Homo sapiens: one gene and its partners. Changing the gene in region 1 together with any one later gene gives a genetic interaction. Each region holds a gene or a part of one and is shown on either strand. Other genes may lie near its edges.

Evidence for each region.
Region 2: changes in NDC1 (region 1) and KRAS are lethal when combined (synthetic lethality), as found in Homo sapiens cells (2 studies listed by BioGRID).
Region 3: changes in NDC1 (region 1) and SPPL3 together harm fitness less than expected from each alone (positive genetic interaction), as found in Homo sapiens cells (one large-scale study listed by BioGRID).

The regions. Positions count from the first base shown.
Region 1 is NC_000001.11:53,765,297-53,768,796, forward strand, and holds the end of NDC1 (nucleoporin NDC1), read right to left. Parts: intron 2,738-3,500; coding exon 2,674-2,737; 3' UTR 182-2,673; downstream 1-181. UniProt on the Homo sapiens protein: Component of the nuclear pore complex (NPC), which plays a key role in de novo assembly and insertion of NPC in the nuclear envelope.
Region 2 is NC_000012.12:25,219,735-25,223,466, reverse strand, and holds part of KRAS (GTPase KRas), read left to right. Parts: intron 1-3,592; exon of another isoform or gene 3,593-3,732. UniProt on the Homo sapiens protein: Ras proteins bind GDP/GTP and possess intrinsic GTPase activity. Plays an important role in the regulation of cell proliferation.
Region 3 is NC_000012.12:120,771,700-120,775,431, forward strand, and holds part of SPPL3 (signal peptide peptidase-like 3), read right to left. Parts: intron 1-3,732.

The DNA of each region.
Region 1 (3,500 bases):
CAAATCAGTCTAGGTTAAGGGCAAAAGCTGACTTCTCAAGAAGTTCAACTCTTTCTGGTTTTATAAGCAACAACTCTGAGACTAAATTGAAATGATTCAGGAAACATCACCACCACCACCCCCCCGCCCAGAAATTAAATAATTGACCTTATAAACACACATATTTCAATTAACTGTTCCATTTTTTTAAATTGCCAATTTATTTTTCTACCCAATCCAGTATCAACGATATACAAAAGGATATAAACAGACTATCATGAATATTTACAGGATGACACACCAAACAATTACCAAGGAACAAATCCTGCAAAGTAACAAATTGTTGCTTATCCATGTCCACTCAACTGTACAAGGTTTATTTCTAGGACAATTTCCCAGTTCTCTGGGAAGGAAGTTCTGTGGATTTATACCTTCCATAAGGGTCAAGCAAACATGCTAAGAGCTGATACCATCATGTTTTTATACTAACAGCCGAGAAAGGCTTTTAAAGAACACTCTCTTTCAGGCCAATGTTACAGCATTAGTGGGCTCATAGACAGGATGTGACTTCATCAAAGGAAATGCTTCTCTCCTCTTGGTCTCCCTAAGGTCCTCCTCCTAGTACACAGGAGGAGTTCCCCATAATAACACCCTGGTTCCAACAGATGGTGTGTAGATTATCAACACACAATGAGAAAAAGAAACTGACCCCCTTACCTACCAAATACAATACAGATCTGGGGAGGCAGTTTCCAGATCTTCAACAGGCAGACACTATGTGGCCTGTATTTAGTACACAGCACATTCTCTTAAGAGAAAACAGGAATGAACATTCTCAGAAACATTCACATTGCTCATCAAATGTAGCTTTACCCAAAGTATATAGGAAATGGCAAAAACCTAACCTAGCTGGACATTTTATACAAGTAAGTCAAAGTTCAAAGGAATCATCCTATCTTTATTCTCAGAAATCCAATGTTGAATATCACAGTTCTTCTTTAATGGAAGCAGAAGATTCAGAGTCCTTGTCTCCCAAAATGCCTCAGCCAGGGTCAGCACAGAGAGTGGAATATAAAAAGCTTAATTGTGTTAATACATGGAAGACAACAGTTCTCAGTCAACCTAGCCACAATTTTCTGTCTTGGCCATCTGTAAGAAATGACTACGTTTGAAATTCAACTTTCACATTCAAAAAAAAGAAATCAATTCAGCTTCAGACACAAAGCAAAACCAAAACAAAAAAACAAATGGCAATAGTCTACATATCTAAACACTTGACAATTGGGGAACTGTCCCACAGTGATATGCTCAAGGCCAGTAGCACCTATTTATAATTTGGCATGTACTGCTTGAAGGGGCAACAGGACCCGGAGCTAAAATATTCAATTATAAAGATATAATACATCGATGAATCAGACAAAAGTAGACATATATGATACCACATTAAAGATTCATATACAGTACTGTGCTGACTTTAAAGAAAATATTTTGGGACACTAGAAGGAAAAGACAATAGGAAAAGAATTACAAAGGAGCATTTCAGTCCAAAGCCAGTCCAGTGAATATCTATGACTAGGATTTCCAATCTTTGATCTCCAAAGAAGCTGATCTAATAAATTCTAACAATACTTCGTTCACATTTGGGACACACAACATACTTCCAAGTACAGTAATCCCTCTGACGTTTTGGTTTCACTTGCTATTTGATGACTAAGTTGTTTCTGGCTATAAAGATCTTCCTATTTTAATTAGCCATTTAACACTACAGAGGCTGCTCCCTTTGAGAGACCAGACAAGTTTCACAGAATTTGATCTAATGAAGATGAATGGTGGGGAAAAAAGGGAACATTTCCTGGGTTTTTTTGCAAACCTTTTTCTCTTGCTTGAAAAACTCTGCAATCACTTAATGTTTTGCTCCAGAAAAAGAAAGCAAAACTAGCTGGGAAAATACCCATACATTAATACTTCGTGTTTACTAGCATGATACAAAATAAATTCATAGATGTCAGTCAATTGTTTCTTAAAGACCAAATGTGAATTTTTAATCTTGTAACTTAAGAACTGAGTTTTTCCACATTCCTTTATATAGAGTTAGCATCTGTAAACTGAGACCCTTTTTTGGGTAATCATACAAATTTAATTTGTCCCTGGAAACAAAAACCCAACCTAACAGATTAACAAAATATGTCCGTTAGACAATATTTTTTGTGAATATTGCTGCACTGTTACCATTTTTATCCTTCAGTAAATGAAACTACACTTAAAAAGTTTATGTATTTTGAGTTTACAAAGAGCTAAACTCTTAATTAAGAAGACTATGAAATCAACCTATACTCATTTCAGAACTGGCTTCCCTCCTTTCAAAAGTAAATTCTAAAAGTTTTTTAGTTATTACTATTAAGTTATATGAGCTAGAGACATTTCGACTGCCATCAATGCTTCTGTAAAATTGAATAAAGATTTTATTATACCACACACACAAAAAGCAATCGGTACAGAAAAGGCAGTTTTCAGTTATTCTGTTGAGAATTTCTTTCCATGATTTCTCCCATTAAAGTATAGTTTTCAAAGCAACCACCACGACAAAGGAAGCATCTAATTAGTCCGTTTTCTTCTGATCCAAGAATGCTGAACATTTACTGTCCCATCTGTAGTTGTATCAGCAGTGTAATGAACACAGTTTATATTACTTAACTATTCTTTGAACTCCAAGAACTGTTGAAGTCTTTTCTGATGTTCTGCAGATGCTTGCACAGCACTAAATGAAACATAAATTCAAAGCATAAGCTTTATTTTACATTAAGCATATTAAGTGAACCACAGAGCACAGAGACAATATTTTTCAAAACAATTAAAAATGAATAGAAATCTTCACTTATTACTATTTCTGAAAAAGCTGGATGAAAACTCTTTTTAATCTAATGAAGAGGAGGGCTTGCATTCAGTAATGGCATGCTTCTATCTTCTAAAAGACCAAACAAATTAAGACTGACAAGTGAAGGCATTGACTTTAACCTGCTCTGCTATGGAACCTGCTGTGCGGAGTTCCAGGCCTTGGAGTAGATTTTCTGGATTTTATTATTTTATTTAAACCAGATTCCAACATTATCTTTGAGTTGTGGAGTATCTGAATTGCCTTTAATACAAAATCCTTTAATCTAAAATGTTTGGTTAAAACACAATAGACTCCATTAATTGTTTTCAAAGGTAACAGCTTGGTGGTTTAGATTTACTTCTCCCTTTGAACATAAGTTATGTTTTGGATGTGAACACTGTGTTCTCTCTCCACCCTCACCATCACGAAAATATATTACACCTTGATAAAATTAGGGCAAATATATACTGAAACTAGTATAATACTTCCTCTTAAACTTTTGGGCAAAAATTGAATATAATGAAAAATTCCGGTTTTCTAGTTCTTGAATAGGTCACCGCTTTTAAAAGTGCCAAAACGGTCTTATTTTAATAATTGTGTTATGAATTGCCCTAAAATGTCTTATAGACATCTTTGCTTTCTTGAA
Region 2 (3,732 bases), on another chromosome or scaffold:
TCACATAAATCCATTTCCAGGTTCCAAAGACCAGGAAGAGGCTTGGTTTTTGTTTTTCTTTTTACTGTCTTTACAGTCTCCTTGACTTTTCTTAGGAGAGAAGGTACTGAGAAAACATGATTCTAATATTTATTATTTTTTCTTCCAACATTTTCTTATGAAACATTTTCAAATACAAAATTGAGTTTTATTTAAAACATTTGCAAATATACTACCTAGATTCTACCATTGTTGTTTTATATTTGCTTTACTTACAACTTTTAAAAGATGCTTTTTATACCACTGAACATTTTAGCTTACATTTCACAAAGAAAAGAAAAAATTTAAGAGACTTTGCATAATGTTTTAAGGGGTTGCAGTAAAGAAGTGCTTCTTATATTTTCTTATGCATACAAATCAGCTGGGCTTATTAAAATCCAGATTCTAATTCAGAAGGTTTAGGTGGGGACCGAGTCTGCATTTCTAACAAACTCCTAGGTGGTATTTTTCTTGGTACTTGGACCATACTTTGAGTAGAAAAGCAGTAGAGGACATAAAAAGAGTCTTGTTAGTCCCACTTTGTTGCTGTCCACTTCTCATTTGATAATATCCTAAAATAGCTGTGTCTCCTTTTTGGTGGTTGTATGATTACTACCTCAGAAGTACTAATTGATTCTTGCTATTTGACCTTAATACTTTAATATAACACAGCATTCATATTTGATCAGAAAACTATCTGGCTTCCTTTTATAAGAGATTTTTAGGTTTTATACAGTTTTGTGGCCTTGGGTTTTTTTGTTTGATTTGTTTTTTTGAAGGTATATAATATGTAAGTAGATAAACAAATTTGATTTGTAGACATTTTTATGTGGATCATCTAATTAAAAATGGAGGGATACAGTATGAAAGAATACTTGTACTTCTTAACAGAGCACTCAACCTTTCTTTTACATCCTGTTTCACTGATGTTATTATGTAATTTATGTTGCTAAACTATAAATTAGATATTTAATTTCTGTTCTTTGATTTCCTTTTATTATTAAATGGACTTGTTGATTTGCCTAGAAATTAATTTGCCTTTCAAAAGTCTTATTAATCTTCCTCCGTTGAAATTAATTTGATATTTGCATGCTTCTGGAAGACTTTAAAGAGCTATTCCGAGTAACTGTAGAGATTATAAAATGAAATATGGGAATTTTAATAAATTTTACATCTCCAGTTACTGGTGAAAATGTCAAGTCCTCCTTTCTGCAGAGTATTTTGTTACTCATCTGTTATTCAGCTTATTTATTTATTTATTTATTTATTTATTTTTCTTTCTTTCTTGTTTTTTTTTTTTGAGACGGAGTCTTGCTTTGTCGCCCAGGCTGGAGTACAGTGGTGGGATCTTGGCTCACTGCAGGCTCCGCCTCCCGGGTTCACACCATTCTTCTGCCTCAGCCTCCCAAGTAGCTGGGACTACAGGCACCCGCCACCATGCCTTGCTAAATTTTTGTATTTTTAGTAGAGACGGGTTTCACTGTGTTAGCCAGGATGGTCTCGATCTCTTGACCTCGTGATCCACCTGCCTCGGCCTCCCAAAGTGCTGGGATTACAGGCATGAGCCACCGCGCCTGGCCCTTATTTGTTTTTTAAACAAAATTAGTGTGCATATCCTTGTTGTATTTTATCGGCAAGTTGTTTTATGCCCTAACTTTTGGGGTCTTGATCATGAGCCTAAAACACGTAAACACCCAAAAAGAATTATATTCCGGTTAAAGGAACAAAACATTCATTTAGAAGTTCTCATCCATGTAAATCAGAGGCTGGCAAATATTTTCTGTAAAGGGCCAAGATAGTAAATGTTTTAGGCTTTGAGGGCCACAAGTGGTATCTGTTGCATTTTTTTTTAATTATGACCCTTTAAAATGCAAAAATCGTTGTTAGCTTGTGCATAGTATAAAAATAGGCTGGCCGCATGCTGTGGCTCATGCCTGTAATCCCAGAAATGAGGTGGGAAGCCGAGGTGGGCACACCACCTGAGGTCAGGAGTTCGAGGCCAGCCTGGCCAACGTGGTTGAAACCCCGTCTCTACTAAAAATACAAAACTTAGCCAGGCGTGGTGGCGGGTGCCTGTTATCCTGGCTACTCAAGGGGCTGAGGCAGTAGAATTGCTTGAACCTGAGAGGCAGAGGCTGTAGTGAGCCCAGATCAAGCCAGTGCACACCAGCCTGGACGACCGAGCGAGACTCTGTCTCAAAAAAAAAAAAAAAAGGCTGTGGCTGCATTTGGTCCATTGGCTGTAATATGCTGATTCCTAATTCTCTGGGTAACTTTAGTGTTTGATTAGCTACTAGAAGTTAGGTTAAACTTTTGTATTTTACAGGCTAACTTTAATAATCTTAAAGTAAAACTTAACATAGTTCATGGAAAGGAAATAGAAATTTTACCCTAGTACTCTTTTTTTTTTTTTTTTTTTTTTTTGAGGCAGAGTCTCCCTCTGTCACCCAGGCTGGAGTGCAGTGGTGGGATCTTGGCTGATTGCAACCTCCTCCTCCTGGGTTCAAGCAATTCTTGTGCCTCAGCCTCCCGAGCAGCTGGGACTACAGGCACGCACCACCACACCTGACTGATTTTTGTATTTTTAGTAGAGACAGGGTTTCGCCATGTTGGCCAGGCTGGTCTTGAACTCCTGGCATCAAGTGATCCTCCCATCTGAGCCTCCCAGTGTGCTGGGATTACAGACGTGAGTCACTGTGCCTGGTCTCTAGTATTTTTTTTTTTTTTGAGACGGTCTCACTGTTGCCAGGCTGGAGTGCAGTGGCGCGATCCTGGCTCACTGCAACCTCCGCTTCCCGGATTCAAGCGATTTTCCTGCCTCAGCCTCCTGAGTAGCTGGGACTATGGGTGCACACCACCACGCCCAGCTAATTTTTGTATTTTTAGTAGAGACGGGGTTTCACCATGTTGGCCAATATGGTCTCAATCTCTTGACCTCGTGATCTGCCCGTCTCGGCCTCCCAAAGTGCTGGGATTACAGGCGTGAGCCACTGTGCCCAGCTGTACTTTTTAAGATAAGAATTGCAGGGTATATATTTTTACCAACTTAATAACTTATAATTTTAAAAAGCTAATTACTTGGCTAGAATATAATGCGTTACATATTCTTTACACTCAGTTCAGTCCATATCTGAAAGGCAAATAGAATTATTTTCTGCTAGTACATTGTGTAGTCCCTATGTTCCTAGTGTATAAGGACTGTTACCTAGTTCACATTTATCTGGGTTGTTGACAGATTTTCCTGGTCCCTTTGGACAGTGCATGGCCATGTTGGCAAAAGCTGTCAAAATTGAAACATTGACACCATGAGAATTGTGTGTTTTCCAGTCTGCTAAAATCAAAAGTGGGAGGGTTCAGTAAGGTGAATAACAGAAGCAGAGTTTTCGGGGTATCTGTTACTCCTCATTCGGCTTTTCTGCTCTCTGGGGGTCTCAATTTAAATATAATGTGAAAATTAGTTTTACGAACCTAAAAATGTTGAGTGATTCATTTCCTGGTTTTGTTGTTAATTTCTAGATATTTAAATTAATTGTTAGAAGAACCCCGTTAAAGAATGCTTTGCAAAACAACCTCCTTATGTGCTATGTCTCTGTTTAATAGTAGTTGAGTTTGTGTACATGAGATCAATATTTTGAACTATAGCTTTTTATGAGTTAAAAATTGACGGAACAGTTACTGTGCACTTGCTGTGCACCATGGTAGTCTCCCAAGTAG
Region 3 (3,732 bases), on another chromosome or scaffold:
GCAAACACAGGTTTGATGAGGACACAGAGCTGTTGAGAAACTCTTCATGGGGTCTTGTGGTGGGATGAATGTCCAACTCCCTGGCCAGGGAGGGCACTCTCCACTGTACAGCCCAAGCCCTCAACACGCATTCCTGTGGCTCTGTTTTCTAGACAGTTCAACACAATTTCCCGCTCTCCACACATACTGTGTTCTTTTCACGCTCTACCCAGAAGGTCCTGCCCCCGGCTCCTTCATATGGAAAATCCATCCTCATTCTGGAAGAGCCAGGTCAGGAGTCCTTTCTCAGAGTCTTTCCTGATCCAACCAGTCAGTTGCTGCTGCTCTTTTTTTGTTTTTTTGAGACAGAGTTTTGCTCGTTGCCCAGGCTGCAGTACAATGGTGCAATCTCAGCTTACTGCAGCTTCCACCTCCTGGGTTCAAGTGATTCTCCTGTCTCAGCCTCCCGAGTAGCCGGGATTACAGGCATCCATCACCACACCCAGCTAATTTTTGCATTTTTAGTAGAGACAGGGTTTCACCATGTTGGTCAGGCTGGTCTCAAACTCCTGACCTCAGGTGATCCACCCACCCCGGCCTCCCAAAGTGCTGGGATTACAGGCATGAGCCACCGCGCCCGGCCCAGTTGCTTCTTCTATGTGATGTGCCATAGAACGTTGAATGTCTCTCAACTCACTCATCCATTCTATGACCTTGTGAATATTTACATACTGGTAAGTTTATTCCCTGTGCTAGCTGACCACGTGCTCCTGGGAAACAGAAACCATGTCTGATTCTTTCTGTGGATCCCTAGCACTTGACAGAGTAGACATTCAATAAATACTTGCTGAATGAATGCAAAACTGTGTTCTATTAACTTCAAATTTCAAATTATTCTAAGGAAAGTAAAAAGCCATATGAACAGATATATTTCATTTTCATAGAACTGGTGGTAAATTGTCAATATATGTAATAAAGTGGATAAATACAGCAGCTTGGCAGACCCTGGACACATCAACTAAATTACTGTTTCATGGGTTCCTACTGTGTGCACGGTGCTAATATAAACACAGAGGAGAAAAAGCTGCCTCATCCCTACAACTCAGAGGAGTTGGAAAGACAGTATTCAACCTAGGAAGAGCAAAATATATATCTTCATCTCCACTATCATCACTGTTATCAAGCGCTCACTGAGTTACAGGGTGAGCTGCAGTGTGAGTTCTGGAGAGATGTGGTCAAGATCTAATTCCTGACTTTATAATCATATAGAATGTTTATTATACTAAGGTCTCCTTTAATTTTTAAATAAATTCATACAACCAACCTGGTAAAATGTATACAAATGCATGTCATTTGAAATGAACCTAATGAAATGTATTAGTCAGTGAGGCTTGACAAAGCTCAGAGCATTCAGAGCTGCAAAGGGATGACTGAAACATGATGTTTAGGACACTGAGAGATGTACCCAGAGCCCCTGCTCTGATCAACTCACACGCATATTTGAAAGGACAGGACCTCCCATGATCATCATCTTTAGGAAACAAAGATTTGGTTGTGTCATGAGTCAATAACCAGGACATTACCAGGGAGCAGCTCATCTGGCTGGAGGAACAACAGTGGTCAGCAGCAGGTGGGAAGCCCATCGGGCCAGAGCACAGGTGAGACACAGGTTTGTGTATAGATACTGGCTAGGGTGATCTGTTCATGGACTTACAGGTGAATACATGGAATGCAAGGCATCAAGGGCACGAAGAAAGTAACAGAAGGCCTAGGATGGACAGACGGGAGACAGGAGTCTGCGGGGAGTGAGGGTCAGAGGACTGAATGATGCAGCTCACCAGTAACCAAAAGCGGGGCAGGGAAACAGACTGAACAGAGAAGCAAGAGGCCAGGCTCCTCGGGGTAAGTTTATTCGCCTCTGTGACACATGTAGACGACCTGTCCCTTCCTGACCTTTTCTTTTTGGAGATGGAGTCTTGCTCTGTCGCCCACGCTGAGTGCAGTGGCACAAGCTTGGCTCACGGCAACCTGTGCCTCCCAGGTTCAAGTGACTCTCAAGTGACTACCAGCGCCCGCCACCATGCCCAACTAATTTTTGCATTTTTAATAGAGATGGGGTTTCACCATATTGGTCAGGCTGGTCTTGAACTACTAACTTCAGGTGATCCACCTGCCTCAGCCTCCCGAAGTGCTGGGATTACAGGCATGGGCCGCCGCGTCTGGCCCTTCCTGAACTTTTGTACTCAATTTGCCATAGAATCACTTCATCCTAACTGCGCAGGAGCCTTGAAAGGTCACAAGGTCTGAGCATCCACCTGCTGCTTTGTCATTCATCTCATGCTAATCCTCCTCCACCTGCGTCTAAACTAAACATGGAACAGACTGCTCAGTGACTGGGTTTTCCATGACTCCAGACAGTGTCATTCTATCCTAACCTTCCAAATAAGAAAGTCTGGGTTCATCTTCAACACATCACAGCCTCTCATCATACACATGAAATCTGCAGCCATTCTGAGGTGTTATCCTTTACTGTTACTGCAGACCTTGCTCACACCTCCACCCACTTCCTACTTTGCTGTGTCTCCTTTCCCTCCCTCCCTCTTACTCTTTCCCATGTACTGTTCACTGCCACTGTCAAACATCTGTTCACATAATTTCCTGCCTGAAGGTCACCAGGTTCCCTTCTCTATGACGAATCAAGTCTAATTATAAAGTTGCATAAACTCAGGAGGCACAACCTCCACAGAGTGGAGCTGAGCACCATGCTGGCTCTGCCTTGGCATCTGTCTGAACGGGTTCCTATTCCTCAGCCTATCCCTTCTCTCCATCTGCGTTAAGCTGAACACCCTCTTTCCAATTAGACCATCTAGGTCCTCCCCACTCTAGTCTAAGTTCCGTGTATGAAGAGGCAGAAGGCATCCTTTTGACTGTCTCAGAGAAGGCTCTTAGAGGCATGTGGAATAAATACCACTCTGACCCAGCGAACACTGCCACAAGCAATGTCGTATTCCCAGAACATGCTCTCAATCTAGTTTGCCTGCCTTTCATTCTGTCATTCAAGTAACCCTTAAAAAATCTTACCTCCTCCTCAGGGCTTTTCAAGGCTAAAGTGAAGGGAGGTGCTCTCTTTCCCTTGCGGCTTTAGACACTCCTGAGACTCTCTCTTATAGGTTTACCAACACACTTAACTTTTGGTTAAATGTACATTAACCAAAAGTGTTGGGGGAAGTAAATGATTAATCTTAGCCATTTAGCTAGAGTTATTTTCAATTTATCACTGATATCTCTGTATTACATTGTCTTCTACAACCAGTGAGTCAGGGACAAAGACAGTGACACCAAACCGAGCTCAAATGTTCTCTACGAGGATGACATAACCTGTAAGGTTTCTAAGCAGTGCTCACATTCGCGATACAGGCTCTCTAGATATCTATGCCCTATGTGGAGTCAGCGCACCAAGAGTGTAGCATTTTATTTATTTATTTATTTAGAGGCAGAGTCTCACTCTGTTGCCCAGGTTGGAGTGCAGTGGTGCAATCTCAGCTCACTGCAACCCCTGCCTTCCAGGTTCAAGTGATTCTCCTGCCTCAGCCTCCCAAGTAGCTGGGACTACAGGTGCATGCCAGCACACCTTGGTTAATTTTTTTATTTTTAGTAGAGATGGGGTTTCACCATGTTGGCCAGGCTGGTCTCCAACTCCTGACCTCAACTGATCTGCCCACCTTCGCCTCCCAAAGAGTTGGGATTACAGGT